Regions from separate parts of the Homo sapiens genome. Here regions 2, 3 and 4 are each linked to region 1. The links come from fine-mapping of genetic effects on gene expression. A gene starts in region 1. Each other region holds a variant in brackets. All regions are shown on one strand. Distances are from middle to middle. Region 1 holds the start of TFCP2L1 (transcription factor CP2 like 1). Region 2 has its middle 27 kb from the start of TFCP2L1. Region 3 has its middle 100 kb from the start of TFCP2L1. Region 4 overlaps NIFK-AS1 (NIFK antisense RNA 1).

The links. PIP is the estimated chance that this variant, and not a neighbour inherited with it, causes the effect.
Region 2: its variant is the best candidate, but not a certain one, in a credible set for the expression of TFCP2L1 in whole blood (TOPMed, PIP 0.89).
Region 3: its variant is the best candidate, but not a certain one, in a credible set for the expression of TFCP2L1 in skeletal muscle (GTEx, PIP 0.56).
Region 4: its variant is the best candidate, but not a certain one, in a credible set for the expression of TFCP2L1 in whole blood (TOPMed, PIP 0.56).

What each region holds. Positions count from the first base shown.
Region 1 is chr2:121,281,385-121,289,468 of GRCh38, forward strand. It overlaps TFCP2L1 (transcription factor CP2 like 1), which reads right to left and starts at 3,818. Exons shown (of 15, transcript NM_014553.3): 1 at 3,664-3,818. The coding sequence starts at 3,725. RefSeq lists a silencer at 3,844-3,983.
Region 2 is chr2:121,308,474-121,316,557 of GRCh38, forward strand. It overlaps the pseudogene RPS17P7. Among named protein-coding and RNA genes, the nearest start is that of TFCP2L1, 27 kb to the left of the region's middle. The variant T/C (reference allele first, on the strand shown) is at 4,330.
Region 3 is chr2:121,180,826-121,188,909 of GRCh38, forward strand. No RefSeq gene overlaps it. Among named protein-coding and RNA genes, the nearest start is that of TFCP2L1, 100 kb to the right of the region's middle. The variant T/C (reference allele first, on the strand shown) is at 3,812.
Region 4 is chr2:121,674,852-121,682,935 of GRCh38, forward strand. All of the region lies in intron 2 of NIFK-AS1 (NIFK antisense RNA 1), which reads left to right. Among named protein-coding and RNA genes, the nearest start is that of NIFK-AS1, 29 kb to the left of the region's middle. RefSeq lists an enhancer at 5,207-5,709. The variant G/A (reference allele first, on the strand shown) is at 4,151.

The DNA of each region.
Region 1 (8,084 bases):
CGCGCATCGCAGGGTGCTGGCTGCACTCCTGCAACCCTCGAATACTCCAGATGCTTTAAAACAGAGGAAACCGCTCCTTCGTGACTCTAGTTTCACTCAATGACCCCCCAAAACACTGATTCAATCAGCCCATCAAGGAGGTAAAAGGGCAAAGTTAGCTAACATCTACAGAAATCCTCTCCATGCCAGAGACAGGCTAGCAGCAAAGGGACCTCTAAGACATTTATTTGGTTTCTATCCACAAGCGATCACTCATAAAGTTTCACTTTTAGAATAAAAATCTAAACAAACATTTTTATTTTTTAATCAACAATTCCATTTACCGGCCACTTCTCATAGCAATACAACTCTGTCCTCCAGGCTCTGTAAACTATGCAAATGAACAAACCACTTCCTTCCCTCCCTGAGTACCCAGGTTGAGACATTCCTCCATCCCTTCTAAAGAGAGGACAACTGGACACTGTTTTCAGGGTCATTCTAATCTGTCCAAAAGGCAAACAGGAAGGAAGGACCTTGGCTTCAAGTCTGTGTTTGTGTGGTTGTTTTTTTTGGGCGGGGGCGGGGGGGACGGAGTTTCACTCTTGTTGTCCAGGCTGGAGTGCAAGTGGCGTGATCTCGGCTCACTACAACCTCCACCTCCCGGGTTCAAGCAATTCTTGTGCCTCAGCTTCCTGAGTAGCTGGGATTATAGGAATGAGCCACCACACCTGGCTAATTTTTGTATTTTTAGTAGAGACAGGGTTCCACCATGTTGGTCAGGCTGGTCACTAACTCCTGACCTCAGGTGATCCACCCTCCTCGGCCTCCCAAAGTGCTGGGATTACAGGTGTGAGCCACCGCGCCCAGCCCAGTCTATTTTCTTATCCAAGTGGGAAATCTTGAAATCCTTGCTCCAAGTTTCTTTTCCTCCACCTCTTAACAAAACTCTCCACATTAAAAAAAAAAAAAAAAAAAAAAAAATGAAGTCATCATCCTGCGACTTAGGGAGGAACTTGTTTCTGGACGTATTTTTTAAGCCAGGAACAGTGGCTCATGCCTGAAATCCCAGTACTTTGGGAGGCTGAGGTGAGAAGACTGCTTGAAGCCAGGGGTTTGAGATCAGCCTGGGCACCATAGTGAGACCCCACCATCTCTAAAAAAAAAAAAAAGGAAAAAGAAAGAAACAAAAAACCCAGCATTTTAAAAATGCCCTTACAAGGGACAAAGAATTCCTTGAGAACATGAATGACCTACAGGCAGGCAAGGCTTGTGTAAGGTCTCTAAATTATGAGCAGCACATAAACAAGTGCCAAATAAGTGCCAGTGCTCTTATCTTGATAACCCTCTTCCCTTCGTGGGTCCCTGACTAGGAATCCAATTAGCTGACCCCACTTGTCTGTATAAACAGAGTCACTGGTACAATCTGTTCCTCGCACATCATAAACAAGCGTCTCTACAACACAAACCCGGCACACACCCCATCAACATCTCATCAATTTTGAGAAGAAAAAGCCTGGCATTGAGCACACACCTGGAAAACCTGCCCTGTGTGGGCCTCCCCCGTCACCATCCACTGCCGAAAAATAAGGGTGCAAGGCCGTCTCGACTTTCCCCCACAGGGCGTCTTCCTTTTGTCAGAGCAGGGCACACTCCCAGCCCGGGTGGTTCTCTAGGAACACTGAGGATTGCATAATTTCATGTTTGCCCAGACCATGTCAAGTTAATAATCCACGGACTGCTGCCTTTAAATTTTTTAAACAGGGGCGGGTGGGCAGAGGAAGTTAAGAACCATCCCTCAACAGTAACTTGTTTCAAGCCTGGCATCTTTATTTGCCAAGGAATAAAAGTCACGAGAACATCAAACAGAAAGGGGGAAGGGAGTAAAGGCCTCTACCCTGGTGAGGTCAGACAGCTTGCAGAAGTTCTGCCAAGTGAGGAGACGACCAAAAATAAAATACAAAAAACGCAAGGAAAAGGACCAGACCCTCCCTCTAGAGTCAGGGGACCAGGGGCATATGCACAAACCGCCACCTTGGCCCTCACTGAGGGCAAAACTCCCAGCTTCCAAGAAGTGAAATAAAAAAGGGCAAGGACTTCTTTATCCATGGTCCCCCGATGACCCCAGAAGCCAATATGGCTTTACAGCACCACCCACTCCCAACGCTCACCCTCCTCCTTTCACCAAATCCTAAAAGGTACCTGAGCTACTCCAGACAAACTTCCATCTCGGTAGCAGATGTCAGAACTGTACCTCCCAGGCAAGGGAGAATTGTTCCCTAACGGGGTGAGGACATTGTAGGTATCTAGGAAGTTTCAAGTACACTCACCTTCAACTCAGGGTCACCTTCAAACTCATTGTTAAGATATGGCAACATACTTAATGGCAGCAAACTAAAACTTAGCCAAAGCTACAACTAAAACTTCAGTACAGTAAAAATGTATTCCATTGTAGCATTTCTTGCAAGTGAATGGACACTTAATCTCTGGGTGATTAACATCTCCTCCTGGGCTTCCCTCTGGTGACATCACCGTGGTCTGCCGGGTGGCTGTCAGCCTTTAAGGCTCTAGACCTTTGCCATCTCCGACTACTTTGGCCCATGAATAAAAACAGCAGATACATCCACTAAACCCAATCATTCCCCCGCCTCCAGGAAAAGGGGATGTCTTCAGGGAGGACAAATACCTACCAGCAGCCAGGAATTACAAATAACGTTTTAAGATCTAAGTGGGAACTTCTTGGGGCCAAAACTAGCACTTAAAGGTAGCTCTAGTATGGGGGCTGTCAATGCCTGTGACTCCTTCGGCCTCATCATTCATTTTCCTTGAGCCCATATCAAATGCCCTTTGGGTTAAATTAGGCACATTTCATAAACTGTGACTAAGATGGAAATAAGGACAGGCTAAAGCTGGTTCAGGCGAGTTCACAAAGTGAAATGACTGCCCATTAGTCCCGGCCAGCAGCAGAACAGGGAAAAACAATCCTCCGGGAGCGAGAGCACACGGGGTCCTACTGCTAAGAGGGGCCTGTGGGGAACTGTGCAAAACACGCAGGACTTACTTTCCCCTCTGAAGGGCACTACTCAAATCCCTCCAGCAGAAGAAAGATTTCCATCAAGGGCAATAACCACGCGGGCCTCGGGCGAACACGCGCAAGACCATCGCGGGAAGTGGGGCGGCCTGCCCCTCCGAGCCCGCCGCCCGCCCCTCGTCCAAGGAAGGGCACTGCAGAGGGCGCGAGGCTGGGAGAGGGGCCCCGGCGGAGACGGGCAAAGAGCAGGGGACGAACTTCCCCGGGCCGGGCACCAGGCTGCTGGCAGGAAGTTTCCTCTGCTTCTCCGATACGCGGGGGAGAGGAGGGCCGCAGGGGGCGGACGGGCCAGGGGAGGCGGCGGGCCGGCAGGTGCGCGCCCTGCACCCTCTCTGCCGCCTGGGAGGAGCCCTCGCAGACATAGGGCTCTGCGCGCTCGCCTCCCCAGCGGGCCCCCAACTCCGCACGTCGGGTCCCGCCGGCGTCCATCTGTCAGTCCCTAGGCGGGACGCTGGGCGGGTCTCTCAGTCCCCAGAGGGCGGACAGCGGGGAGGCCAGGGCCCAGCAGGGGCGCCCCCTCTCCGCCCCTGGACGTCCAACGGCGCCCGGCCCGCCGGCCCGGCCCGAGACCCGCGGGGACCGCGCGCGGCCCTTACCGCAGGTAGCTGCCGGAGTTGTGCTGGTTGTAGTGCTCGGGCTGCGTGTGCCAGAAGAGCATGGCTGGAACTCCCAGCGCGCCGACCGGGGCGCGGCAGCAAGCGCAGACGCGGGGCGCGCCGAGGACCCAGCGGCGGCTTCGCGCTCCGAACCCGCGGTGCCGGCCGGCTCGGCGCATTTATCGGCGGCCCAGGGGCGGGACAGCGGTGAGACCCGCCCCCCAGGAAGCGCGGCCCGGAGGGCGGCTCCCCGCGGCAGCCGCACCTGGCTGACTCCCGCGCGTGCCTTTCCGGCGAGCGAGCGCGCCTCCGGGGCGGCCAGACCAGAGGGCTCTAGGGCCGGCCGGGTGCTCTCCCCAAACTCCGATGTGGGGCTCAGGTGACCCTTGCCGCCCCCAACCCGCTCCACACGGCCCCTCTGGCCTCTGCTCCCCACTCTACGCCCAGGGCCGGTCTCCAGAGCGGCTCCGAGATTTCCAGCCTAGGCCCTCTCTGTCGCCTTTCCTCGCTCTTGTTTTTTCATAGCACTTCAGACGCTCTGAAATCATGGGGGTTTTTTTGTTGGTTTTTTTTTTTTTGAGACGGGGTCTCGCTCTGCCACCCAGGCTGGAGTGCAGTGGCGCGATCTCGGGGCTCACTGCAACCTCTCCTCCCAGGTTCAAGCAATTCTCCTACCTCAGCCTCCTGAGTAGCTGGGATTACAAGCGCCCCCCATCACGCCTGACTGATTTTTTTATTGTTAGTAGAGACGGGGTTTCGCCATGTTGGCCAGGCTGGTCTCGAACTCCTGACCTCAGGTGATCCGCCCACCTTGGCCTCCCAAAGTGCTGGCATTACAGGCGTGAGCCCCCGAGTCAGGCCGACATTTTTTTATTTTTTATTTTTACTTGTGTACTGATTGTCTTTCCCATTAGACTGTAAGCTCCAAGAGGACAGGGCCTGGCTCGCTTAACACCCCGTTACCTGCACTGCCTAGAACAGTGCATGGGACATAGTTAAGATAAATGTTTGTTGAGTAAACATAAAAAAAGAAAAAAGGAATGCACCAAAAGAGTAATCAGAGAAGCCTTCCTGGAGGAGGTGACATTGAGCTGAGACCTGATGGATGCAAAGGAAGCATCTCTGTGAACATCACCTAGGGAAAAATAGTTCCAGGCATAGTTCCCTACCCCCTTGGCAACAGTGACTGCCAAAGCCTTGAGGAAGACCTACTTGGCATGGCTGGTCTTGAGGAGAGCTTAGGAGATGAGGTGAGGAGGGCGGGGAAGATCAGAGGGCCTGGCAGGCCAGGACAAGGAGCTAGGATTTTATTCTGTGTTTTAAGCAGAGGAGTCACATGTATGATTTGCCTTTTGGAAAGATCAGTCTGGCAGCAGTGTAGACAGTGGGTCATGGGGTGGAGGGGAGGGCCATTAGGAGGGAGTGGAGTTCCCTGGAGCCCTGACCCCTATCCAGGTGCTATCCGGTTCTCCAGTACATGGCACAGCACCTGGCACAGAGGAGATGGGGATTCTGTCCCTGAGTATTAATCCAGTCAAATGACATCCCTTGGGGACCTGGTCCAGAACTCCCCACTCCCCCACGCATGGATGTGGGTAAAACCCTCCCTCACTCTGCTGTTCCTGCCCTCCTCCCTCCAGCCATAGGTCACAACTGGCAAACCACTTCCTCTGTGCAGCCCTCAAGGACTGCCCCCCACTGTTCTGCCCTGTTAGGAGAATGGGAATATTTCCCCGGCTTCAGGTGGTGCTGTCAGCAGACAGTCCCCCAGCCATCGGCTTCTCCAGGAACTGCCCCTGCTCAGAGAGCAGCCTTGCCCTCTGTCATGTCCCTCCTGGGATAGCCCACATCCCAATGACTATCCCAGCAGAAGTATAAAAGCTTGGCCATCTCTGCCTGACTGGGGACAGTGCTGATGGGGTATTTTAGCCCCAGGACTCCCCATGAAGACAGTCAAAGCTGTCACAAGACCTGTGTCCTGCTCAGGGTCTCCCTCCTGCTTCCTTCCAGTTCCTTGCCCAGGGGTTACTCTTAAGGGAACTTCCAAAGAAACATCCTGAACACCGACCCCCACAACCAACCTCACCCCATCAGGGTCCATGACAAACCCATTGTTTAAATGGGAGACACTCTGGGGTGGTCTGGAAAGAACATGTCCTTTGCTGGACTCGTCCTTGAGTTCTAACAGGAGAGGTCCATGGGTAAGCAGCAGTGACAGTACAGTGTGGTCAGGGACGTAGAGGCTGCCCTGGGAACACAGAGGAGGACTCTGGAGCTCCGAAGAGGCTCCAGCATGAAGTGATATCTCCTGATGGATGGGTGAGTGGAAGTGAAACCAATCTGTGGAGATGGAGGGAGGTTTCCGGCCCAGTAGACGCTCCTGCAAAGGCCTGGAGGAAGGGCAGTCAATATTATTAGATGGTTCAGACCTGGGTTTACTACTTAGCTCCATCTGAATCTATGACCTTGGGTGGAGTAAATTGACCTCATGCTGCTTCTCCCATCAAGAGGTGGTGTCTGTTTCCCTCCCCTCCCCCTTCCGCCTGGGCTGACCCTGTGACTTACTTTAACCATAGAATGCAGAGGAAGTAATGCTTTTCCCTTCTGGGCTGGCCCCTAGGCAGCTTCTCTTTTTTTTTTTTTTTTTTTTGAGACGAAGTTTCTTGTTGCCCAGACTGGAGTGCAATGGCAGGATCTCAGCTCACCGCAAGCTCTGCCTCCTGGGTTCAAGCGATATTCCTGCCTCTGCCTCCTGAGTAGCTGGGATTACAGGTGCCTGCCACCACACCCAGCTAATTTTTTATATTTCAATTAGAGACGGGGTTTCACCATGTTGGCCAGGCTGGTCTAGAACTCCTGACCTTCAGGTGATCCACCCACCTCAGCCTCCCAAAGTGCTGGGATTACAAGCATGATAGGCAGCTTCTCTTAACTCTCCCAGAGCTCTGAGCCACCAGGTAGAGTCCAAATGCCCCATTGGAGAGGGAGACCTGGTCAGCCTCCAATCCCTCTGGCCACTCCGCAGAGCCCATCTAAGATGCCCCAGGGGATTGCCTCCAACCACACCTCATAGAACTGAGGCAAGCCCTGCCCACCCAAGCCCTGCCCAAAATGCAGGCTCGAGAGCAAATGGATGGCTGTGGCCTTACGCCACTGAGGTGTGGGCTGGTTTGTTTCATACAAATGGAAAAATGATACGCTGGGCCCTGTGGATCTGGGTTTTGCTATTGGGAATAATAAGGGCTCATTTCATGGTTGTGGTGAAGCTTAGGTTCAGGTGAGTTTAGCTTCTCAGGGATGATGGCTCTCATGACCTAAGTATGACTCTCTGTATTTTGGGTCATTGCCTACTTTCTCTCTCTTTGTAGGTTTTTAACTATGGGAGGGTAGAATTCAGCAATGCCTACAGAGACAGCATTTGAGTCACACTGTGTGAACAAAAATGCATATTTCTGCCCATGACTCTTGGGTGTTACAGGGCCCAATTAGGCCTAGTCTGGACCCCTGGGGCTTCCAGGCTGCTGAGGAGGAGGAGACAGATGTGCAGGAGATGGCCTGCCAGTTCCTCTTTTATTCTGTGAATGTTCACAGTTCCCATGTGGTGGGAACATTGATTTTTACTATGCACCAGACCCAGAGCCATGCACTGTCATCTCCCGACACTGAGAAGAAGAGACATCACCTGACCTTCTGATTGAAGAAACAGGCTTGGGAGGCTGACTGCCACAGCTGGGATTTGAGGCCAGGCCTGTAAATTCAACAACCATACTCCGACTCTCATCCATTCCTGTCTTAAGGCCCGGCATTCCTTTCTTCACCCCACACTGGGCAAAGGTGCTGTGACCAGATGTCCTCTGCTCCCAGGATCAGCCCGGGGTCCCTGCAGAGGCAGCAGAAAGGGGCCCACTGAGTACTCAGGTGTCACCCCCTTAGCAGCCCCACAAGGGATTCCCAGCTGCTCTCGAAAGAGATCACGATGAATACTGGGGATTCACGTCTGAGAAGATGGTTTTGAGGCATGAATAGGAGTTGAAGGATGGCCAACGTAGAGGGCGGAATTGAGCCAGAGGGAAAGCGTGTGCACACATGTTTATCACAGTTTATCTTGGGATCAGCAGCGCTGAACGAGGGAAGCAGTGAGCAGAGGACAGAGTTAAGCTGTGAGGCCTCAGTGGATCCTATATGAGCTCAGGGCCAGGCTGGTGCTCCAAGTTGTCCAGAATTTGGGCAGGGGTTCAAGCCTTTCTATACCACCTTGACCAGTCATGGACAGATGTGGTTGCCCTGGGGAAGGGACATCACTTTGGGCAAAGCAGCTCAGCTGAGTCCTGGAGAGGGACCTGTCAGTGTTATCACCTGCCAAGGCTCCCTGCAGCAGGGGCTTGAGTGCCGCAGCTGGAGAGGGACACTTTGGCTGGACA
Region 2 (8,084 bases), 27 kb after region 1:
GTGAATGAATTAAACTTCCCAATAATAAGACATAGATTGGCAGAATGGCTTTAAAAAACAGTGTTTCTATGTTACAGCATAAGAGACTCACTTTAGGGTTAAGGATACACATTGGTTAAACGTGAAAGGATAGAAAAGGATATTCCAAGCAAATAGTAATAAACAAAGCAGGGATGACTATGTTAATATCAGACAAAATCGATTTTAATGATAAAAGGGTGAATTCACCAGGAAGACATAACAATTATAAACATATATGCACCACACATCAGAGTTCCTCATTATATGACGTATCAACTGAATTAAAGACAGAAATAGCTCTATGATAATAGTAGAAGACTTTAAAACCCAATTTTCAATAATGGATAGAACAACCAGACAGAAGATCAATAAGAAAATAGGGGATTCGAACAATGCTTTAGACAAGTTTGACCTAAAAGATATATACAGAACATCTACCCAGCAACATCACAATACACAATTTTCTCAAGTGCACAAAGGCCAGGGAGGGTGGCTCACACCTGTAATCCCAGAACTTTGGCAGGCTGAGGTGGGAGGATCACTTGAGCCCAGGAGTTCAAGGCCAGCTTGGGCAACATAGAGAGACCCCATCTCCACAAAAAGAAATTTAAAAAATTAGCCAGGTGTGGTGGTGGCAAATGCCTGTAGTCCCAGCTACCTAGAAGGCTAAAGAGGAAGAATTACTTAACCCCGGGAGGTCAAGGTTACAGCGAGCCATGATCATGCCACTGCATTTCAGCCTGGGCAACAGAGCAAGATCCTTTCTCAAAAAAAAAGAAATAGAGAGAGAGAGAGAGAAAGAGAGAGAGAGAGGAAGGCAGGAAAGAAGGAAGGAGGGAGGGAGGCAAAGAGGGAGGGAGGAAAGGAAGGAAGGAAAGGAGGGAGGGAGGGGGGGTAAGAGGAAAGGAAAGGAAAGAGAGCAAGAAAGAGAAGAAAGAAAGAAAAGAGAGAAAGAAAGAAACAAAGAAAGAAATAAAGGAAAAAAGAAAGAAAGGAAGGAAAGAAGGAAGGAAGGAAAGAAAGAAAGAGAGAGGAAGAAAGAGAGAGAGAGAAAGAAAGAAAGAAAAAAAAGAAAGAAAGAGAAAGAAAGACAGAAAGAAAATTATCCAGAAGAGATCATATGTTAGGGCACAAAATAAGTCTTAATACATTTTAGAAGATTAAAATTATGCATAGTGTCTTTTCTGATCACATTGGAATGAAACTAGAAACCAATAGCAGGAGGAAAATTTGAAAATCCACAAATATGTGGAAATTAAACAACACACTCTTAAACAACCAATGGGTCAAAGAAGAAATCACAAGGGAAAATAGAAAATATCTTTAGACAAATTAAAATGAAAACAGGTTTCTGCTTTTTTGGAGGGCAGTGATCTAATCTGCAGACACCATATCCCCTCTTCCACTTCCTGCTGCAGCCAATAAAGGCCGTTGCTACCATAAAAAAAAACAAAACAAAACAACAACAACAGGTTTCCTCTTTCACCAAGGACCCACCAAGATGAGTCATGTTCACACCAAAGCCGTGAATAAGGTGGCCTGGGTCATCACAGAAAAGCACTACATGAGCCTGGGCAACAACTTCCACATGAACGTGTGTGTGTGTGTGTGTGTGTGTGTGTGTGGAGATTGCTATTATCTCCAGTAGGAAGTCCTGCAACAAGATAGCAGGCTATGTCACACATCTGATGCAGAGGATTCAGAGGGTCCCAGTAAGAAATATCTCCATCACATTTTAGGAGGAGGAGAGAAAAAGGAGAGATAATTCTGTTCCTGAGGTCTCAGTCCTGGATTAGGAGGTCACTGAAGTAAATTCTCACACTGGGGAAATGCTAAAGCTTTTGGACATTGGCAGTCTATCCAACCTGCAGGTCACTCAGCCTGAAGTTGGGATGAATTTTAAAATGCCACGTGGAACTGTTTTGACTCTTTCTGCAATGTTATAATATTTTCAGTAAGCCTGAGACAACAGCAAAAAATAAAAAATAAAAACACAAACTAATACTTATGGGATGCAGTATAAAGAGCGCTAAGATAATTCATAGCTGTAAACACGTTAAAAAAGAAGAAAGATTTGAAATCAACAACCTAATGTTACGCCTTAAGGAACTAGAAAAATATCCCAAACCTAGCAGAAGGATAGAAAGGATAACGATTAAAGCAAAGATAAATAAAATAGAGAATAGAAAAACAATACAGAAAATCAACAAAACCAAGAGCTGGCTCTTTGAAAAGATCAACAAAATTGAAAACAAACCTTTAACTAAGTAGACTTAAGAAAAAAAGAGAAATGTAAAATAACTAATATCAGAATGAAAGAAGGGCCATTCAACTTTACAGAAAAAAAATTATAAGAGAGTACTAGAGGGCTAGGCACCGTGGCTCACCCCTATAATCCCAGCAGTTTGAGAAGCTGAGGGGGTTGGATCATTTGAGGTCAGGAGTTCAAGACTAGCCTGGACAAATAGTGAAACCCCGTCTCTACTAAAAATACAAAGATTAGCCCGGTGTGGTGGTGTGCACCTGTAATCCCAGCTATTCGGGAAATTAAGGCAGGAGAATCGCTTGATCCTGGGAGGCGGAGGTTGCAGTGAGCCAAGATCGCACCACTGTACTCCAGTCTGGGCGACAGAGTGAGACCCTGTCTCAAAAAAAAAAAAAAAAAGAGTACTAGAATAACTGCATGCCAAAAATATTACATAACCCAGATGAAGTGGACAAACTCATAGAAACACACAACATACCAAGAGTTGATGAAGACACAGAAACTCTGAAAAGACCTATCAGTAGGAGGGAGATTGGATTCAGAACCAAAAACCCCTCAACAAAGAAAAGCCTAGGACCAGATAGCTTCACTGGTGAATTCTACCAGACATTTAAAGAAGAACTAACACCACTTCTTCTCAAACTCTTACAAAAAATTGAAGAGAAAGGAACATTTTCAAACTCATTCTGTAAGGCCAACATTACCATGACATCAAAGACACTGCAAGAAAATAAAACTTCAGACAAATATTGCTTATCAATATTGATCCAAAATTCCTCAACAAAATTCTGGTACACCAAATTCAACAGCATATTAAAGGAACACTATGACTAAATGGGATTTACTTCTGGAATAAAAAACTCCAAGGATGGTTTAACATATGAAAATGGATTAATGTAATACAACATAGTAACAGAATGAGAAAAAAAATGACCATTTCAATTGATGCAGAAAAACCACGTGACAAAATTCAATAACCTTTCATGACAAAAACAATCAACAAACTAGAAATAGAAGAAAAGTACCTCAACATATTAAAAGCCAGATATGAAAAATCCAAAGCTAACTTAACCTGAATGGCCAAAGACTGAAAGCTTTTCTTCTAAGATCAGAAAGAAGACAAAGATGCCTGGTTTCACCACTTCTGTTGGACATAGTACTGGAAGAGTCCTAACCAGAGAAACTGGGCAAGAAAAAGAAGTAAAAGGCATAAAAATTGGAAAGGAAGAAGGGAAATTATCTCTGTTTGCAGACAATATAATCTTACATGTAGAAAACCCTAAAGATTACACACATACACAAACTACTAAATGCATTCAACAAAGTAGCAGGATACAGAATCAACAGGCAAAAATCAGTTAATTTCTATACACTAACAATGAACAATACAAAAATGAAATTAAGCGAACAATTCCATTTATAACAGTATCACAAAGAATAAAATCCTTAGGGATCAACTTAACCAAGGAGGCAAAGAACTTATACTGAAAACTACGAAATGTTGCTGAAGGAAATTAAAGAAGACACAAATAAGTGGAATGACATTCCATGTTCATGGACTGGAAGTCTTAACACCGTTCAGATGCCAATGTTACTTAAAAGTGATCTACAGACTCAAGGCAATCCACACTGAAATCCCTACATTGTATTTTGCAGAAATAGAAAATTCCTGGGGCTGTGTGTGGTGGCTCACGCCTGTAATCCCAGCACTTTGGGAAGCCGAGGCAGGCAGATCACCTGAGGTCAGGAGTTCAAGACCAGCCTGGCTGACATGACAAAACCCCATCTCTACTAAAAATACAAAAGTTAGCCAGGTGTGGTAGTGTGCACCTGTAATCCCAGCTACCTGGGAAGCTGAGGCAGGAGAGTCATTTGAACCCAGGAGGCGGAGTTTGCAGTGAGCCGAGATTGTGCCACTGCACTCCAGCCTGGGTGACAGAGCAAGACTCTATCTCAAAAAAAAAAAAAAAAAAAATTCATATGGAATCTCATGAGACTCTGAATATTCAAAATAATATTGAAAAAGAACAAATTTGGAGGTG[T/C]CACATTCCCTGAGTTCAAAACTTCCTACAAAGGTACAGTAATCAAAACAGCGTGGTACTGACATAAACATATACACATAGAACAATACAATAGAATAAAGAGCCCACAAATCAGCCCTGAATACATGGCCAAATAATTTCAGACAAGGATGCCAAGACCATTTAATAGGGGAAGGGCAGTACTTTAAACAAATGGTGTTGGGAAAACTGGATATCCAAAAGCAAAAGAATTATGTTGGGTCCTTATCCTACACCATGTGCAAAAATTAACTCAAAATGAATAGAAGACCTAAATGTTAGAGCTAAAACTATAAAACTCTTCTAAAAAATATAGGAGGAACACTTTATGACATTGAATTTGGCAATGACTTCTTAGTAATGATACCAAAAGCACAGGCAACAAAAGGAAAAATACACAAATGGGACTACATAAAAATTTAAAACTTTAGCAGAGAAACAGAAACTACAAAAAAGAATCAATTAAAAATTTTATACTAAAAATCATAACATCGGAAACAAAAATTTACTCGATAGGCTTAACAGCAGATTATAAATGACAGACGTATAAGTGATATTGAAGCTAGATCAAGGGATCTAATCTGAAGGACAGAACAACAACAAAAAATTGAAAATAAAAACACAATCTCAGGGAACTGTAAACAATATTTAAAAACCCTAGTACCCTTGTATTTGGAGTCTTGGAAAAAGAAGAGAAAGAAAATGAGGTGGCAAAAATATTTGAAGACATGATAGCCAACCTTGTCTCAAATTTTGTGGGCACACATTTATAGATTCAAGAAGCTCAGCAAACCCCACACCAAATAAATACCAAAAAATCACAAGGCATATGATTGTCAAATAGGTGAAAATCAAACATAAAGCAAAAGCTTTGGAAATAAAGAAAAATAATACATAATATACAGAAGATCAAGGATAAAAAAATGTGTGTTCCTCTCATCAGTAACAATGAGAGTCAAAGACGGTGGAACAATATCTTTGAAAAAAAACAAGAATTGGCTGGGCGCGGTGGTTCACGCCTGTAATCCCAGCACTTTGGAAGGCCGAGGCAGGTAGGTCACCTGAGGTCGAGAATTCGAGACCAGCCTGACCAACGTGGAGAAACCCTGTCTCTACTAAAAATACAAAATTAGCTGGTCGTGGTGGCGCATGCCTGTAATCCCGGCTATTCAGGAGGCTGAGGCAGGAGAATTGCTTGAACCCAGGAGGCGGAGGTTGTGGTGAGCCGAGATCGCACCATTACACTCCAGCCAGGGCAACAAGAGTGAAACTCCGTCCCACCCCCGCCCCCAAAGAAAGATATTTTCAAATAAATGAAAACAAAGACAATTAATCACTAGTAGACCTGCACTATAATAAATGCAAAAAGATGTTTGTCAGGCTGAAAGGAAATAATACTAGAAAGAATATCTAGGAAGGAATGAAGAGCACCAGAAATCCTAAATATGTGTATCAATATAGCCAGGCGAGGTGGCTCACACCTGTAATCCTAGCACTTTGAGAGGCCAAGGTGGGTAGATCACCTGAGGTCAGGAGTTTGAGATCAGCCTGGCCAAGACAGTGAAATCCCATCTCTACTAAAAACACAAAAATTAGCCAGGCATGGTGGTGGGCACCTGTAATCCCAGCTACTGGAGAGGCTGAGGCAGGAGAACCACTTGAACCCAGGAGGTGGAGATTGCAGTGAGTCTGAGATTGTGCCACTGCACTCTGTCCTAGACAGGACTCCATCTCAAAAAAAAAAAAGTGTATAAATATAAATATACAATTTTCTCTTGTTTGTTTGTTTGTTTGTTTGTTTTTGAGATGGAGTCTTTCTCTGTCACCCAGGCTGGAGTGCAGTGGCGCGATCTCGGCTCACTGCAACCTCCGCCTCCCATGTTCAAGCAATTCTCCTGCCTCAGCCTCCTGAGTAGCTGGGATTATAGGCACACACCACAATACCCGGCTAATTTTTTTGTATTTTTAGTAGAGATAGGGTTTCACCATATTGGCCAGGCTGGTCTTGAACTTCTGACCTCAAGTGATCCTCCCACCTCAGCCTCCCAGAGTGCTAGGATTACAGGTGTGAGCTACCGCACCCAGCTGACTTTTTTTTTTTGAGACAAGCTTTTGCTCTGTCATCCAGGCCAGAGTGCAATAGTGTGATCACAGCTCACTGCAGCCTCCACCACCCAGGCTCAAGAGATCCTCCCATCTCAGCCTCTCAAGTAGCTGGGACTACAGGTGCACCTGTAGGCCCAGTTAATTTTTGTATTTTTTGTAGGGATGAGGTTTTGCCATATTGCCCAGGCTGGTCCTCTTGATGACTTTAAGATGCATTTGATTGTGTAAAGCAAAAATCATGGCATTGCGTATGGGGTTTACAGCATATGTCAAGGTAATACATATGACAATTACTAAAGGATGGGGAGAGTACATGTATCTACATAAGCACAGCCAAGGTTTCTGCATTTTACATGGTGTGGACAATATTACTGATATTTATTTCCAGTGTAATTCCACTGTGGTCAGAGGACATGCCCTGCATGATATCAGTCCTTCTAAAAAACTTATGCAGATTTGTGGCTGGGAGCGGTGGCTCATGCCTATAATCGCAGCACTTTGGCAGGCCAAGGCAGGCGGATAATTTGAGGTCAGGAGTTCAAGACCAGCCCGACCAACATGGTGAAACCCTGTCTCTACTAAGAATACAAAAAAAAAAAAAATAGCTGGGCGTGGTGGCACATGCCTGTAATCTCAGCTACTGGGGGAGACTGAGGCAGGAGAATCACTTGAACCAGGGAGACAGAGGTTGCAGTGAGCCAAGATCATGCCACTGCACTCCAGCCTGGGCAACAGTGAGACTCCGTCTCAAAAAAGAAACAATTATTCAGATTTGTTTTATGGCCTGGAATCTAGTTTATTTCAGTGTAAACATGTACCCCGTTTTCCACCTGATATCAAGAACATGGTAAGGATGTCTGCTTTCCCTAAGCATTGTGCTAGAGGCCCTAGCCAGTGCAAGAAGGCAAGAAAAACGTGGGGAAAAAGGCAGGCCAGGTGAGGTGGCTCAGCCCTAAAATCTCACCACTTTGGGAGGGTGAGGAGGATGGATTGTTTGAGCCCAGCAGTTCAAGACCAGCCTGGGTAACATGGCGAAACCCTGTCTCTACAAAAAGTACAAAAATTAGCGGGGCCTGCTAATGTTCACCTGTATTCCCAGCTATTCTGGAGGCTGAGATGGAAGGATTGCTTGAGCCTGGGAAGTCAAGGCTTCAGTGTGCCACTGCACTCCAGCCTGGGTGACAGAGCAAGAAGAAAAAAAAAAAAGAGACACAGACCAGAAGAATTAAAATTGTCTCTATTCTTAAGAACTCTGCAAAATAATTACAAGAATTTAAAAGATAATTTAGAAAGGTCACACAGTACAATTTAGTGTGCAAATAATTAAAGATTTAAGTTAAAATAATTTCCCTTTATACCATCATACCATCAAAAAGTATACAAGTCTTGGAGGCAAATTTTTTTTTTTTTTTTAGTTGGAGTCTTGCTTTGTCACCTAGGTATCACAATCAAGTCTCACTGAAGCCTCAAATTCCTGAGCTTAAATGATCCTCCCGACTCAGCCTCCCAAGTAGCTGGGACTACAGGCACGTGCCACCACACCTTGCTAATTTTTAAATTTTTCATACAGATGGGGGTCTCACTATGTTGCCTAGGCTGATCTCAAACTCCTGGGCTCAGATAATCCTTTC
Region 3 (8,084 bases), 100 kb before region 1:
TCAAGATATATTCTAGTAAAATTATTGGACTTTATGAAAAAATTATTTTAGGCATCTCCACTAAAAGTTCAAATTGCTTAACTTGTCTACAGGGACATAAAGTAGAATAGTGGTTACCAGGGACTGGGAGTGGGAAATGGGGAGTGACCACTCAATGGGTACAGAGTTTTTTCTTGTAGTATGATGAAAATGTTCTTGAACATGATGATGGTCGTACATCACTGTGAATGTATTAAATACCACTGAATTGTACCCTTTACATAGTTAAAATGATGAATTTTGTGTTGTGTATATTTTGCCATAAAAAAGCAAGACCCAACTATAGCCTGTTGACCAGAATTGCACTCTAAATATAAAGACACAAATAAGTCAGAAGCAAAAGGATGAAAGAAGATATACCATGCTAACACAATCAAAAGAATACTAGAATGATCTATGAATATCAGAAAAAAATGGATTTCAAAGCAAATCATATTACTAAGGATGAAGAAGGCCATTATTTAAATGATAAAGGGCCCACTACTTCCAGATTACATTATCATTTTAAATATGCACCTAATAACAGAGCTTGAAAAAAACATAAATGAAAAACTGGTAGAACTTAAAGAATAGACCAATTCACAATTATCATTAGATATTTCAATATCTCTCTCTCAATAATTCATAGAACAAGTAGACAGGAAATCAGTAACTATACAGTGACTTGAACAACACTAGCAACTACACTAATTGAACGTTCCACCCAACAATGGCAACAAGAAAATATAATTTTTTCAAGTCCCCAAGAATCATTTACCAAAACAGACAATACTGTAATCCATAAAAGAAGTATCAATACATTTAAAAGTTTTCAAATCACACAAGGTATGTTTTCTGATCATAATGATATTAAATTAGGAATCTGTAATAGAAAATTTTCTGGAAAATACTCAAACATTTGGAAACCAAACAACACACTTCTAAATAACTCATGGGAAAGGGAGAGACCACAGATCAAATTAGGAAGTATTTTTAACTGAATGAAAGCATAGAGTATTAAAATTTGTGGGATGCGGCTAAAGTAAATAAAGTATATTCCCTTCACCTTGCCCACAGGGAGACTGAGTGATTTTATCACACATGCTAGTGAAGTTCAGCTATGCTTTGTCTTTTGTGTTTCTTTGCTTGCCAAAATACTTAAAGCCTCACCTGAGAAAGACAGGCTGGCAGAGGAAATTAAGAAGGAATGTCAGAGAATTCCTTCTTAGCTATTTCTCTTTTCTCTTCATCTAGGTATAAACCTGGACATCAGAACAGAAAAATTACCAGAACAAAGGCAAGGCCATAAATCAGGGGTGAACAAGTAGAAGAAATAAGTGGATGAGTAAGAGAATGAATGAACAATGAGTCTGGGCTGGGCTATGATCCCAACACTTTGGGAGGCCGAGGAGGGAGGATTGCTTGAGGCCAGGAGTTTGAGACTAGCCTGGGCAACACAGCAAAAGTGGCTCTACATAAATCTTAAAAGATAAAAGAAAAGAAAAAAGGGGGAAAAATTAGTCTGAACACTGCAAAATTGCCCCTAGGCCAGGTACATGGTGATGTTGGCTGTATCCTGGCGTAGTGACAATTTCTGTTGCTGTAGACATCCCAGGAAATTTTCTCCTCCTCTGCTCTTCAGGAAGTTTGACCACTCCACCACACGTGGGGACATTTCCAATGTCAAAAATTATAACCAACCATAAAACCTTTTTTAATCCAAGCAACAACCATCTCTGTTGTCTAAACATGCCAAGAGGGAAAACGATTTTGCCCAGGGACCATGGCTGTAAAACCCAGGGCCACACCCAGCTCTACCCAGTTCTGTTGCCTGCCCCAGCTCCCATGAAGTCCTTCAGCCTCCCCTGAACTAAGGCTTTGCAAGAGTGACTCAGATTCCCATCACTTGCCTCAAACCATCAGTGCTGAAAGATTGAAGTCCTCACCCTTGAACCCAACTGTGCCAAACTGCAAGAAATTATTTACCTACCCACTGCTGGGGAAATCCAAAAACAGCACGTTTCCTCACCTGCCATGTGCCACGTGCCGATGCTTTCTTTTTGCCCCAAACAAATGGGTGGAAGTCCAAACATAAGGAACAGCCATCTTCTGAATTAAGTAACTCAAGCTCCAAAGGGGTGTCCACCGCTGCAGCTCCATCTGACCCCTACACTGCCTCTGGTCACACCTTACACTCTGCAAGGCCTCCTACCTGTCTCTGAGTGTCCCCAGGATGCACAAGGCTTAACAATCCTGGACTCTGGCAGGCACCTGTTCCCCAACTCTGCCTCGTTTCTTAAAGATTTATTTCATATCTTCTTTACTTTTGCGGGTGTTTGAACATGTCCATTTAAAAGTGTGGTTTTTTAAAATTTCAGTCTAAGCACCTCCTCTTCCAGGAAGGCTTCCTGGACTTTCCTGGCCAATTCAGGTATTCCCTCCTCTGGGTTTCCTGAACAAGGAGTTTGTCTCTATCAAGGTAGCACAAAGCAGTGGTTAGGGCAATGGATTTGGGGGTCAGACACATCTGGGTTCAAACCTTGGCTCCACTATTTACTTGCTATTTGAACTTGGGCAGGCCCCTAAGCCTCAAATTCTACTTTTATACAATCAGGTTGATAATAACACCTACCTTCGAAGAGCTTTGTGACAATTCAATGAGAGAAGACATTTAGAGCACTTGTATGATACCTGGCTTAAGGGATAGGCTGAACAACAGAGTATATGCATTCCTAAATAATTATTTAAACACAGATGACTCTGTAATGACAGTAAATACCTACCTGTCTCCCCATTGTACCACGGGCTCAATTTTATCCCCAACTCCTGCCAGAGGCTGGGAACATACAAGGGAACTGAATTTCTACAGAATCTTCCTCCTCCAACAAGCCATCCCGTCAGCAAACATCCTTTTTGGAAAGTCCAGGCAGCATGAAACCTACTGACCCTGCAGAATTAGAATCTAATTAGTAAATATGTATTAAGTAACTGTATTAAGTAACTACAACGTACTAGGTGCTGTGAGGGTACAAAGATGAAAATACAAAGTCTTGTTCCTCAAAGAGCTCGTGTTTTGTTTCAGGAGAGGCAATATAAGCCTTTGGAAACTTCCATCAACAACTAAGATTTAAATAGCAAAGATGGCGAAGTGCAAATCTAACAATAAGAAAAATAGAATTAATTACCAGGCACCCTGCCTCTGCCCACCATAGGCCCTCAGACCCCCATCCTGGAGCCTCACCCCTGCCCCCATCCCAGTCCTCATTCCCAGACCAGTCCCAGCATGAGAGCTGGTTTACGAGCAGCCTAAATTCTGTTCTCTCTTCCCCACCAACCCCACCACCATCACAATACTCATGTCTACTTTCTTAAGTCAAGATCCTAGGAAGTAGGTGCCCATTTTATAGATGAGAAAACCAAGGCTCATGGAGAGTAAATAACTACTCAGAGCCCCAGTTTAGTAAATGATAGAACCTGGATCCTATCGCAGATGTGTTTGGCAGCCGAGTCCAAGCATCCCTCACCAGATGGCCTGCACCAGGAGGCACTTACTGGGTGATACACCACAGTGTAAGGCAGCATTTCTGCCCCCAGGGGGTGAAGTCCAGTGGGGAAGATTATTTGCTCACCTGGAACAGCTGGTGTTATGCAAAGGCAAACGTGCATGTTGGGTGTGCAAGCAACAGAAACCCAACGCTGGTGACTGAGGAGCTGAGAATTGACAGGAAGGTGGGAGAACGGGCTTAGGAAGTGGGCAGCCACCAAGGGAGGCCCAGGGGCAAAAGCTTGGCCA[T/C]GGTCCCACCTGGAGGCCTGTGGGGAAGGCCCACCAGAAGCTCATGCTCCCGCCGTAGAGGGACACCAGGGCCACTGCTGCCACCTGTGGACACTGCTGCCACCTGTGGACACTGCCACAGGAAATGGCATCTCATTTTCCCTCCACTTAATGTCACCCACCTAAGTCTGAGTCCTGGATGGAAGTGTCCTTTTAGCCACATCTGGGTCCATTTGCCCAGGAACAAGGTGAGAGAATGCCTGCCCCTTCAGCTTCCACAGTGGGTGGCTTATCTCCTGCCAATACTCACATCATAGGGCCTTATTCTCAAATAAGAAGGGGGCAAACATACTGGGTAGCCCCCTCTCCATCCAATAGCAAATGTCCCCTGCCATGATTAAGAGCTAAAAAGAATGGAATAGGTGACATGGGATCTAGAAGCTTGGAGGAGGGGCCACAAGGAGGACTTGAAGAATTTAAGAGAGGTCCATGGAAGAGGTGGGTGTGCTGACTTTGGCCTTTAAGCACAGAGAGGATGTGGCCCCGGCTCTGTCCACGATGCTTGGCCTGACCTGGTCAGGCACTGTGCAAGGGGTCCTCTGAGCTCATTCAGTGCCTGGACCATGGCAGCCACATTATAATTCTCACGGCCATGGCACCGTGCTAAGACCCAGGCATGCAGCTGCAACTTTCCCAACAGTCCTGCAGGCTAACTTCTCTGACCCATAGCTGAGAGAGGTGATAGGCCTTGATGGAAAAGGCCAGCGCGTGAGCCCAGGCCTGTCCGACTGGGAAGCCCACGCTCCTTGCCCTAAGCTGGATGCCTCCCGTTGCAATTAGATAAGGAGCCGTAACACTGTGTGTTTTACTCCTGCTGGCTGCTTTTCCCAGGAATCTTTGTAACCTTCAGGCCAACCCTATGAGATAGCGAGAGCTGCAGATGTTCACCCCTCTTGAGTAGTCGAGGAACCCAAGGCCAAGGTCACCCAGCTTTCAGGGACTGGAGTCCACATAGGCCTGGTGCCTGCTCTTCGCCCGGATCCAGCCAGGCAGCTGTCTTCAACTCATGACCCTGCAGCGGGAGGTTGTGGGGTGGAGCAATTTGAGGAACAGATCCCATTAAGCTGTGTCCATCCACATGATGTAAACCCACACCTAGCCATCCCTTGGAACACAGTGGCCAAAAGTGCAGAGGGAACATTTGTCTAGGAGAACAATGGGTATTGATTCCTCTGGCAGCTGCAGCTGGCAGGCTCTGTAGGTGGTTTGGTCTGGGGTTTGGGGTGGTGTTTATTTGGATGCCGTAGCCTGGTTACTCATCATTCTTGCTCTCCCTGGGCCCCTGGGCTGTCTGAGGACTCAGTGGGAACAGTTCAACAGCCCAGGGCATGTGCTGTGTCACTGTCCCCTGCTCTTCCTGAGAGTGACTGGCACTATGTCCTGGCTTGGGCTGGGCTATCCTGGGATGGGGGCCTGGACACTCTGGGCTTGGACTGGCAGCCCTGCAGCCAACCTTCTTTATATGGGGCACACATGCTCCTGAGAACTTGCTAGACAGGACCGTGTCCGTGCTCCATTTCCTGGCCACCTGCACATCAGTCCAAATACTGTTTCTCCAACACACACACACACACATAGGCAGACAGGCCGCTGCCTACCTCTCACCACCACAGTCACTTCAGTGGCCTGGGAGGAAGGTGACCTCGAGCAGGTCCTGGTTCAGACACCAGTGCATGGCCTGTCAGAGCCTCTCAGGCCTCAGTGCCCCCAGCTGCAAGATGCGGCTCCACAGCAAGCCCTCTGTGCCTCACCTGCATCCTGCTCCAGGCGCCTCTGTCTGCAGACAGCTCTGTGCGCGTGCCCGTGGAGCACGCCCTGCCTGGGCACCACACATCACCACCAGAGAGGCAGGAGGCAGGAGCACCGGGACAAAGTCTCCTCCCACCTCCCCCAGGATGAGTTTGTGCAGCTTCTGGGAACTGGGGCCCAGGGCTCTCCACCAGTGCTATCTGCCATCAGTCCTCCTTTCTCCAGCTTCACTCTCCTGTCCATCGCTCCATCCCCCGGGGTCACACGCCCTTAAGTTTCCATACAGAAGCCAAAAGCCTCAGGCTCCCTGAATTTTGGGTGAGCCCAGGTAAAGACAATGGATGTGAGAACTTCTCAGGCCTCTATTCTGTGACATATGAAGGTATGAAGGGCATTTATTTATTTATTTATTTATTTATTTATTTATTTATTTAGAGATAGAGTCTCTGTCACCCAGCCTGGTGTGCAGTGGCGTGATCTCAGCTCACTGCAACCTCTGCCTCCTGGGTTCAAGCAATTCTCCTGCCTCAGCCTCCCAAGTAGCTAGGACTATGGGTGTGTGCCACCACACCAGACTAATTTTTGTATTTTTAGTAGAGAAGGGTTTTCACCATGTTGGCCAGGCTGGTCTCAAGCTCCTGGTCTCAAGTGATCTGTCTGCCTCGGCCTCCCAAGGTGCTGGAACTACAGGGGTGAGCCACTGTGCCTGGCAATACGAAGGACATTCTTAAAAAAAAAAAAATTGAAGTCCTGGGCCATTTTCATCTCACACCCAGCTGGCATCTCTGCCTCCTTTACTCCTTGGATAACTAACCCTTAATTCCGTCCTCTGTAAAATGAGGCTGACCCCTTGAGGAACTTCTCCAAGGATTGAATGGAGTAAGTCCATAATGTGCTCTGCACAAGGCCTGGTACCCAGAAGGTGCTCAATAATTTTAACAACCAGCACAGAGGCCTGAATGGGGTGCGGGGGGCAGTGGCTGGAATCAGAACACCTGGCAGTTTGCAGCTGTCCCTCAAGAGGCGCTGGCATCCCGGCTGGCGATGGCACTGGATGGAGCCACATTTACCCAGAATCTGTCTGTCCTCCACGAGCCCCGAGATCCAGCCTTTGCAGGCTGGGTGATGCACACCCTGGGTCCTGAGCCCAGAATTGGGGCCAAGATTCCGGGAGGCGCTCAAGATCAACAAGCTTCGGGTTTCCTGGTTGAGGTCCTGCACGTACAACATGTTCCCTCTTTCCAGAAGTGGCGAGGGTGCAGCCCAGAGGACCGCCCTCGAGCTTCTCTGACACCCTGACTGCCCCCAACCCCGAGCCCTCTGCCCTCAATTTCCCCCTGAGCTGCCTCATCCCATCCACCTGAACAAACGCATGTGGCTCAGAGGCACTCATCGATGCAGCAGGTTTCACCTTAGCCTGAAGATCTGCGGCGCCTCCGCCCCACACCCAGGGCTGGCATTTCATTCTGGGTGTCACATGGCCCCCAGGGCCTTTATGACTGCAGGGCCACTGACAGCATCTTCATTCATCTCCAGCTGCTCTGGGGGCCCAGGCAGGGCGGGAATCCATAGTAGGGTGAGAGGCTGGCCACAGCCTGCTCCCCTGCCATGCACTAGCACTGTCCCTGGCCCTCTGGCTGAAGCTGCAGGTTGCCCAACACAACCCTCTAGAGCCATTGACCCATGCGGGTCCCTGAGTCAGCTATAAATTCTGCTCAGCCCACACATGCGGCTCCCCAGGATGCCCTCCCCCACCTCCCTCCTTGGCTGCCCAGGACTTCAGAGGCCACACATCTGTGGGGGACTTTGGAGTCAGAGCTGTGTCGATCACATCCTCAGGGCATGCTTGTCCTGCTGCCTGGCCTCCCACCACAATCCTAGACCCAAGCTCGCCCACCCCTACAAGTCTCCAGGATGATGGGTGCACAACACAACTTGTATCAGGCTGATCCTTTGATCAGATTCCTTCCGTGGCTCCCCAGGCTTTCAGGATGGAGTCCTCCAGCCTCTTGCCTGCCTGGCAGCCCAGCCTCACCAGCCACCTTGCCATCCCCATGCCCGCTCTATCTGTTTCCCAAAGGCTGTCCCACACTCTCGCCATGGGCCTTGGCACATTCTGTTTCTACTCACTGGGATGCTCTTCTCTTCTTTGATAAATGATCACCTACTCATCTTTCAAGACTCGGCTTCAACCTTAGAAAAACTCGCATGATAAAGATGCCTCCAGGTGAGGCTGGGTGTCTTCCTCTGGGTCCTACAGAACTTGAATGCCTTTCTGTCCTGTTATACCCACAATCTGCTTGCTGTTCTGATTCCACCTAGTGATCGCGTTTTTGAAGAGTCTCGTGTCTCTTTCATCCCCTGTGGGTTGGGCAAAGTCTCAGAACATGGTAGATTTCAAAAAATATTTGAGATGGATGGAAGGATGGGCAGATAAATGGGTGGATGGATGGATGAATGGGTGGGTGGGTGGATGGATGGATGG
Region 4 (8,084 bases), 390 kb after region 1:
GAATAGACCAATAACAAGTAGTGAGATTGAAACAGTAATGAAAAAAAAAATGCCAACAGCAAAAAAAAGGTCCAGGACTAGATGGATTCACAGATGAATTCTATCAGGCATTTGAAGAAGAATTGGTACTGATCGTAATGAAATTATTCCAAAAGATAAACTGGAAATCCTCCTTAAATAATTCTATGAAAGCCGGGTGCAATGGCTCATACCTATAATCCCAGCACTTTGGGAGGCTGAAGCAGGCAGATCACTTGAGGTCAGGAGTTCAAGACCAGCCTGGCCAACGTGGTGAAACCCCATCTCTACTAAAAATTCAAAAATTAGCTGGGCGTAGTGGCAGGCACCTGTAATCCCAGCTACTCATGAGGCTGAAGCAGGAGAATTGCTTGAACCTGGGAGGCAGAGATTGCAGTAAGCCAAGATTGCACCACTGCACTCCAGCTTGGGCAACACGAGCAAAACTTCGTCAAAAAAAAAAAAAAAAAAAACTCTATGAAGCCAGTATCACTCTAATACCCAAACCAGGAAAAGACATAACAACAACAACAAAAATGCAGACCAATATCCCTGATGAACATAGATGGGAAAATCCTCAACAAAATACTGGCTAACCAAAACCAACAGCATATCGAAAAGATAGCACATCATGATAAAGTGGGTTTTATACTAGGGATGCAGGGATGGTTTAACATATGCAAGTCAATAAATGTGATACATCACATAAACAGAATTAAAAGCAAAAATCATATGATCATCTCAATAGATGCTGAAAAAGCATTTGACAAAATCCAGCATCCCTTTATGATTAAAACCCTAAGCAAAATCAGCATAGAAGGGACATACCTCAAGGTAATAACCATCTATGACAAACCCTCAGGCAACATTATACTGAACAGGGAAAGGTTGAAAGCATTCCCCCTGAGAACTGGAACAAGACAAGGATGCCCATTTTTATCACTGCTATTCAATATAGTACTGGAAATCCTAGCCAGAGCAATCAGACAAGAGAAAGAAATAAAGGGCATCCAAATTGGTAAAGAGGAAGTCAAACCATTGCTGTTTGCCGATGATATGATTGTATATCTAGAAAACCCTAAAGATTCATCCAAAAAGCTCCTAAACCTGATAAATGAATTCAGTAAAGTTTCAGGATATAAAATCAATGTACACAAATAAGTAGCACTGCTATACACCAGCAGTGACCAACCTGAGAATCAAATCAAGAACTCAACCCTTTTAACAACAGCTGTAAAAAATAATATAAAATACGTAGAAATATACCTAACCAAGAATGTGAAAGATCTCTACAAGGAAAACTACAAAATACTGCTGAAATAAGTCATAGATGACACAAACAAATGGGAACACATCTCATGCTCATGGATGGGTAGAATCAATATTGTGAAAATGACCATACAGTCAAAAGCAATCTACAAATTCAGTGCAATTCCTGTCAAAATACCATCATTATTTTTCACAGAACTATAAAAATAAAATCCTAAAATTAATATGGAACCAAAAAAGAGCCCACATAGCCAAAGCGAGACTAAGTGAGAAGAACAAATCTGGAGGCATCACATTACCTGACTTCAAACTATACTACAAGGCTATAGTTACCAAAACAGCATGGTACTGGTATAAAAATAGGCGTGTACATCAATGCAACAGAATAGAGTACCCAGAAATAAAGCCAAATATTTAAAGCCAACTGATCTTCGACAAAGCAAACAAAAACATAAAGTGGAGAAGGACACCCTGTTCAACAAAGGCTGCACCCTAACCACAAATGGTCAAATGGTGCTGGGATTGTTGGCAAGTCACATGTAGAAGAATGAAACTTAATCCTCATGTCTCACCCTATACAAAAATCAACTCAAAATGGATCAAAGACTTGAATCTAAGACCTGAAACCATAAAAATTCTAGAATATAATATTGGAAAAACTCTTCTAGACATTGGCTAAGGTAGAGTTAATGACTAAGAACCCAAAAGCAAATACAACAAAAACAAAAATAAATAGATGAGACCGAATTAAACTAAAAAGCTTCCGCAGAGAGAAAAAAAAATCAGCAGACTTGGCTGGGCATGGTGGCTCACGCCTATAATCTCAGCACTTTGGGAGGCCAAGGTGGGTGGATCACCTAAGGTTAGGAGTTCGAGACCAGCCTGGCCAACATGGCGAAACCCCATCTCTACTAAAAATACAAAAATTATCTGAGCATGGTGGTGCATGCCTGTAATCCCAGCTACTTGAGACGCTGAGGCAGGAGAATCACTTGAACCTGGGAGACAGAGGTTGCAGTTAGCCGAGATCGCATCACTGCACTCCAGCCTGGGCGACAGAGCGAGACCCTGTCTCAAAAATAAAATAAAATAAAATAAAATAAGGCCAGGCATGGTGGCTCATGCCTGTAATCCCAGCACTTTGGGAGGCCAAGGTGGGTGGATCACAAGGTCAGGAGATTGAGACCATCCTGGCTAACATGGTGAAACCCCATCTCTACTAAAAAATACAAAAAATTAGCCGGGTGTGGTGGCAGGCGCCTGTAGTCCCAGCTACTCGGGAGGCTGAGGCAGGAGAATGGCATGAACCCTGGAGGCAGAGCTTGCAGTGAGCTGAGATCACGCCACTGCACTCCAGCCTGAGCGAGAGTGCAAGACTCTGTCTCAAAAAAAATAAACATAAAAATAAAATAAAATAAAAATAATCAGCAGAGTAAACAGAGAACCCCCAGAGTGGGAGAAAATTTTCACAGACTATTCATCCAACAAAGGACTAATACCCAGAATCTACCAGGAACTCAAACAAATCAGCAAAAAAAAAAAATCCCATCAAAAAGTGGGCTAAGGACATGAATACACAATTCTCAAAAGAAGATATACAAATGTCCAACAAACATGAAAAAAATGCTCAACATCACTAATTATCAGGGAAATGCAAATCAAAACCACAATGCAATACCACCTTACTCCTGCAAGAATGGCCATAATTTAAATATCAAAATATAATAGATGTTGATGTGGATGTGGTGAAAAAGGAACACTTTCACACTGCTGGTGGGAATGTAGTACAAACACTATGGAAAACAGTATGGAGAATCCTTTGAGAACTAAAAGTAGAATTACCATTTGATGCAGCAGTCCCACTAATGGGTATCTACCCAAAGGAAAAGAAGTCATTGTATGAAACAGACTTACACACATATGTGCATAGCAATACAATTTGCAATTGCAAAAATAAGGAACCAGCCTAACCCTGATTTCCAGTGGAAATCCTAGGAAGTTATGATGTTAGTTCTGGGCTTGTAAAAGAAAAACAACAGCAAACAAACAAACAAAAAAGAAAAACCTTGGAAGCAAGTAATTTGAGATGGTTTATGTCAGTTTTTGTGATGAAAACTATTTTCTAATGTTTAGAAAGATGTTTCCACAATTTTTTGTTTCTTAACAGAACTAAATATTTAGCTTTTCTGTATCATATAGATGACTCAGACATTTTATGATTAGCTATTACCCAGGTTGACATAACATGACTCTAAGTTATTGAAAAAGATTTTTTAAACAATGTAAAGCTCATTTATAAACTTTTATTTATTCTCTTTTGCAAGTAAACCTTATGGTAAATAATAAAAAACATAAAAAAGTAAATAAAGTTTTATTTATTCTTAGGAAGTATGCTTGAGTAGCTCATTAAACAAAGTTAGCTACTGAAACTGTCTTTGCAGGGCTGAGCAGTGGCTCACGCCTGTAATCCCAGCTCTTTAGGAGGCCCAGGCAGGTGCATTACCTGAGGTCAGGAGTTAGAGACCAGCCTGGCCAACATGGTAAAACTCTTTCTCTACTAAAAATATAAAAAATTAGCCAGGTGTGGTGGTGGGTGCCTGTAATCCCAGCTACTTGGGAGGCTGAGGCAGGAGAACCACTTGAACCCAGGAGGTGGAGGTTGCAGTGAGCTGAGATCACATCATTGCACTCCAGCCTGGGCAACAAGAGCAAGACTCCATCTCAAAAAAAAAAAAAAAAGAAAAGAAAAGAAAAAAAGAAACTGCCTTCGCAAAATTATAACTGAGACAGTGAAAGAAATCTAACTTAACTGACCATCTTGCCTCTAGCATATAAGCTGTCTTTGTTCATTCCATCTTGCCTA[G/A]GGACTAGATTGTCTTTGTAGGACTAACATTTGACACAAGATTAGAAATTATGATTTAGGAGTCATGCAGCTGGAGGCTAAAAGATTATGACCCTCCCTAAATTTCTCTCAAGATCAGTGCTTGAGATATTTTGCAGACCCTGCACTTGATGGATCAGCTGGCTCCACCCAGATTGATAAACTGGCTCATCTGATCTTGTAGCCCCTGCCCATGAACTGACTCACTGCAAGAAGACAGCTTCAACTCCCTATGATTTCATCTCTGACCTGACCAATCAGCACTCCTGGCTCACTGGGTTCTCCCCACCCACTAGGTTGTCCTTAAAAATTCTGCTCCCAAAATGCTCGGGGAGACTGATTTGAGTAATAAAACTCTGGTTTCTGCACAGCTGGCTCTGTGTGAATTACTCCTTCTCTATTGCAATTCCCCTGTCTTGAGAAATCAGCTCTGTCTAGGCAGTGGGCAAGGTGAACCCATTGGGTGCTTACACCATCATCTTCAGTTTTTTCTTTGTAATCATGTTTACATTCCACAAATGTTAGGAACTTAACACTTTAGCCAGAACTCTAAAGTTAAATACACGGGTATTTTGTTAATCAGAGGACACGGTTGTTTTCAGTAAATCAACAGTATTAAACTAGTCTTATTTACCAACAATTTACACAAATCATTTGAACTAAAAGGCATTTGAGTTAGCTTATATTTTTCTCATAAAATATATAATTTAAGTGCTTACTTTTTCTTTAACCCAATTAATTAGAGTTTTCGTGTATTTTGGTAATGAAATATCACATCCACATGGCATATATGAACATATATACATACAGACATACAAACAAAAGCAGAGTCTGTAGCTTGATAAACTTCTTCATTTGTCAGGGGGTTTTTTTGTTTTGGTTTTGGTTTTGGTTTTCTTTTTCTTTTTTTTTTTTTTTGAGATGGAGTCTTGCTCTGTTGCCCAGGCTAGAGTGCAGTGGTGTGATCTAAGCTCACTGCAACACCCACTTCCTGGGTTCAAGCGATTCTCCTGCCTCAGCCTCCCGAGTAGCTGGGATTACAGGCGCCTGCCACTGTGCCTGGCTAATTTTTGTATTTTTAGTAGAGATGGGGTTTTGCCATGTTGGCCAGGGTGGTCTCAAACTCCTAACCTCATGATCCGCCCACCTTGGCCTCCCAAAGTGCTGGGATTACAGGCGTGAGCCACCGCACCCAGAAACCATTTGCCAGTTTTTAAATAGTTTCTCTCCCCTCTTTAGACTATGGAGCCCTAAACAACTGTTAGCAACATAACCCTTAATTTGCACTTCCAAAGACATGACTCTTAAGTGAAAATTTACATCCCAAAGGCACAGCACTTAGATCTAAGCACCATTCTCTGCTGAGATGAAGAAGGATATGGGTAAAGATTCAGTCGAAGTGAGATTGCCAGGAAAAGTATCTTAAACAAAGGCAGGGATTGTTATGTAAACTTTAAACCAATGTCTTCCCCATCTTAAGAGTTTTGTGGGTTTTTTGTTTGTTTTTTTTTAGACAAGGTGTCATTCTGTTACCTGGACTGGGGTGCAATGGTGCAATTTTGGCTCGCTGCAGTCTCCACTTCCCTAAGGCCACAAGATTTGAAGTTAGGATAATACATGTTACACTGTTAACTTTTAGCAAACTTTACTTTTGTTGAAAACCATGTAAGTTTGGGATTTTTAATTATCCTTTGCTATTACTAAGACCTCTTTAGTCCAAATCAACTTGGAATTAGTATAGATGGTTCCTTCCTGGTTCTGTAAGTACTTTAAGGCTTGGCTGAGTGCAGAGCTCACACGTTTGAGCAGACTGATTATTAGGCAATTTTCCTAACTCTATTTCTACGAGAGTTTCCCTATCAATTACTGAATACTCGTTGTGTCTTTTTCCCTCAATCAGCCAGGAGAAACCATCCATCATCCTGTCCTGAAGGGAGTTCCTCCTAGGTCTGGTCGGACCTTTGTATGGTAGTTAATTAAGATTTAGATCCCCTGTTAGGAAACCTGCAGGGTTAAGGGAATTATCAGTGGTTAATGTTAAATCATATTTTTCTAACAGAATGGCCTCATATGTTAATATTCTTAAGTCAGTAAGCTGCCTTTTTGCTTTTTTGACTTAGGATAGTTCTGACCTGGTGAGGTGTGCTCACAATGAGGTTTCCTCTAAAAGTTATTTTTGTACTTTCTTCAGTTAGCAAAGCAGTTGCTGCTACAGATTGAATGCATTTGGGCCATCCCCGGGTTACTGGGTTAAGGATTTTTGATAGGAAGGCTACTGGTTGTCAGTGGCCTCCGTGCTTTTGGGATATGCCCTTGTTTACACTGACAACAAGATGGAATAGCTACTTGAGGGTAAATCTAGGACAGGGGCAGTTACTAATAGATGTTTTAACCTTTCCACCTGTTGGATTTCTGGTAATTGCCAAATGAGGAGGGGGTTTTGCCCATCTTGCGTGAGCTTTTTGTATAAGGGTTTTGTTTTTAGGGCATAAGAGGCTATCCATAGATGACAGTATCTGACTTATCTTAAAGTTTTCTAAGTTCTTGTTTGGTCTCCGGCAGAGGCAAGGATATGATACTTTCAGTCCATTCAAGCTCAATTTGCCATTTACCTTTGCTAATTAAATGACTTGTTCTAATATTTGACTAAATAAATTTGAAGACTTCGTAAACCCTTGAGGTAAGACTGTCTATCTGTATTGCTATTTTCAATCAGAGTGAGGGTCTTCTCACTCAAAGGCAAATAGGTCCTGGCTGTCTTCCGTGAACGGACAAACCCAGAAGGCATCTTTTAAATCTATTACCATAACAACAGGGTGGGTAGTTTGGACTTGATTAATAGCTCTAAGGTCTTGCACTAACTGGTGTGACCCGTCTGGCTTCTTTACAGGCAGTATTGGAGTTTTATAGGGTCACGGAGAAGACTTTCAATTATAGGTTTTACATTTACCCTGGCTTTTAAAGGAATAGGGTACATTGCTTTCTCTTTACTACTTCTAGCTCTCTCTCTCTCTCTCTCTCTCTCTCTGACTCTCTGTCTCTTTCTCTCTCTGACTCTCTTAAGTTTTTTTTTTTTTATCCTTCTAATATTTTAACATTAGTCCTGGGGGATTATTGGGGGAATATTATTGTTGCTAGCTTTATTTCTTTTATCCTGTACCTTACTTGGGGTATTTCCCATTTTTGGGGTGAGGCTCAATTTCCCTTACCAGAAATATCTCACCTTTTGGAGGGAGGCTCAATTTCCCTTACTGGCAATGTCTCACCTTTTGGGGTGAGGCTCAATTTCCCTCACTGGAAATGTCTTGCCTTTTAGGGTGAGGCTCAATTTCCCCTACTGGAAATGTCTCACCTTTTGGGGTGAGGCTCAATTTCCCTCACTGGAAATGTCTCACCTTTTGGGGCGAGGCTCGATTTCCCTTACCGGAAATATCTTGCCTCTTTTTAATCCCCAAGATACCCCGACCAAGGAATACTTCACTGCCCCCTGTGGTTTTTCTTTCCTTAGTCCCGGCTAAGGAATGCTTTACCACCCCTACGGCTTCTTTTTCCTTGGTATGTCCCAACCAAGGAATGTTTCACTGCCCCTGCAGTTTTTCTTTCCTTAGTCCCTACCACCAAAGGAATACTTTACCAGCTCCTCCGCTGTTTCCTTCTTTGGCTTGTGCGTGATGTTGTCTGGTCCACGTGGTATGTAAGGATCCTTTACCCCAGGTCACCGGCCAGTTTCTTTCCACATTGCTGAGAGTCTGGGTTTATTCATCACACCAGGTAGGTCTCGGTTCCTCACCCCTGAGGCTGCCGAAATGAGGCGGCGGGGCACCTCCTTACAAGAGAGGACTGGAGACCGCCCAGAGGAGAGTGGGTCCCTGCATGGGCCACCAAACTGTTAGAAATGCAAAATGCTTGTTCCCTG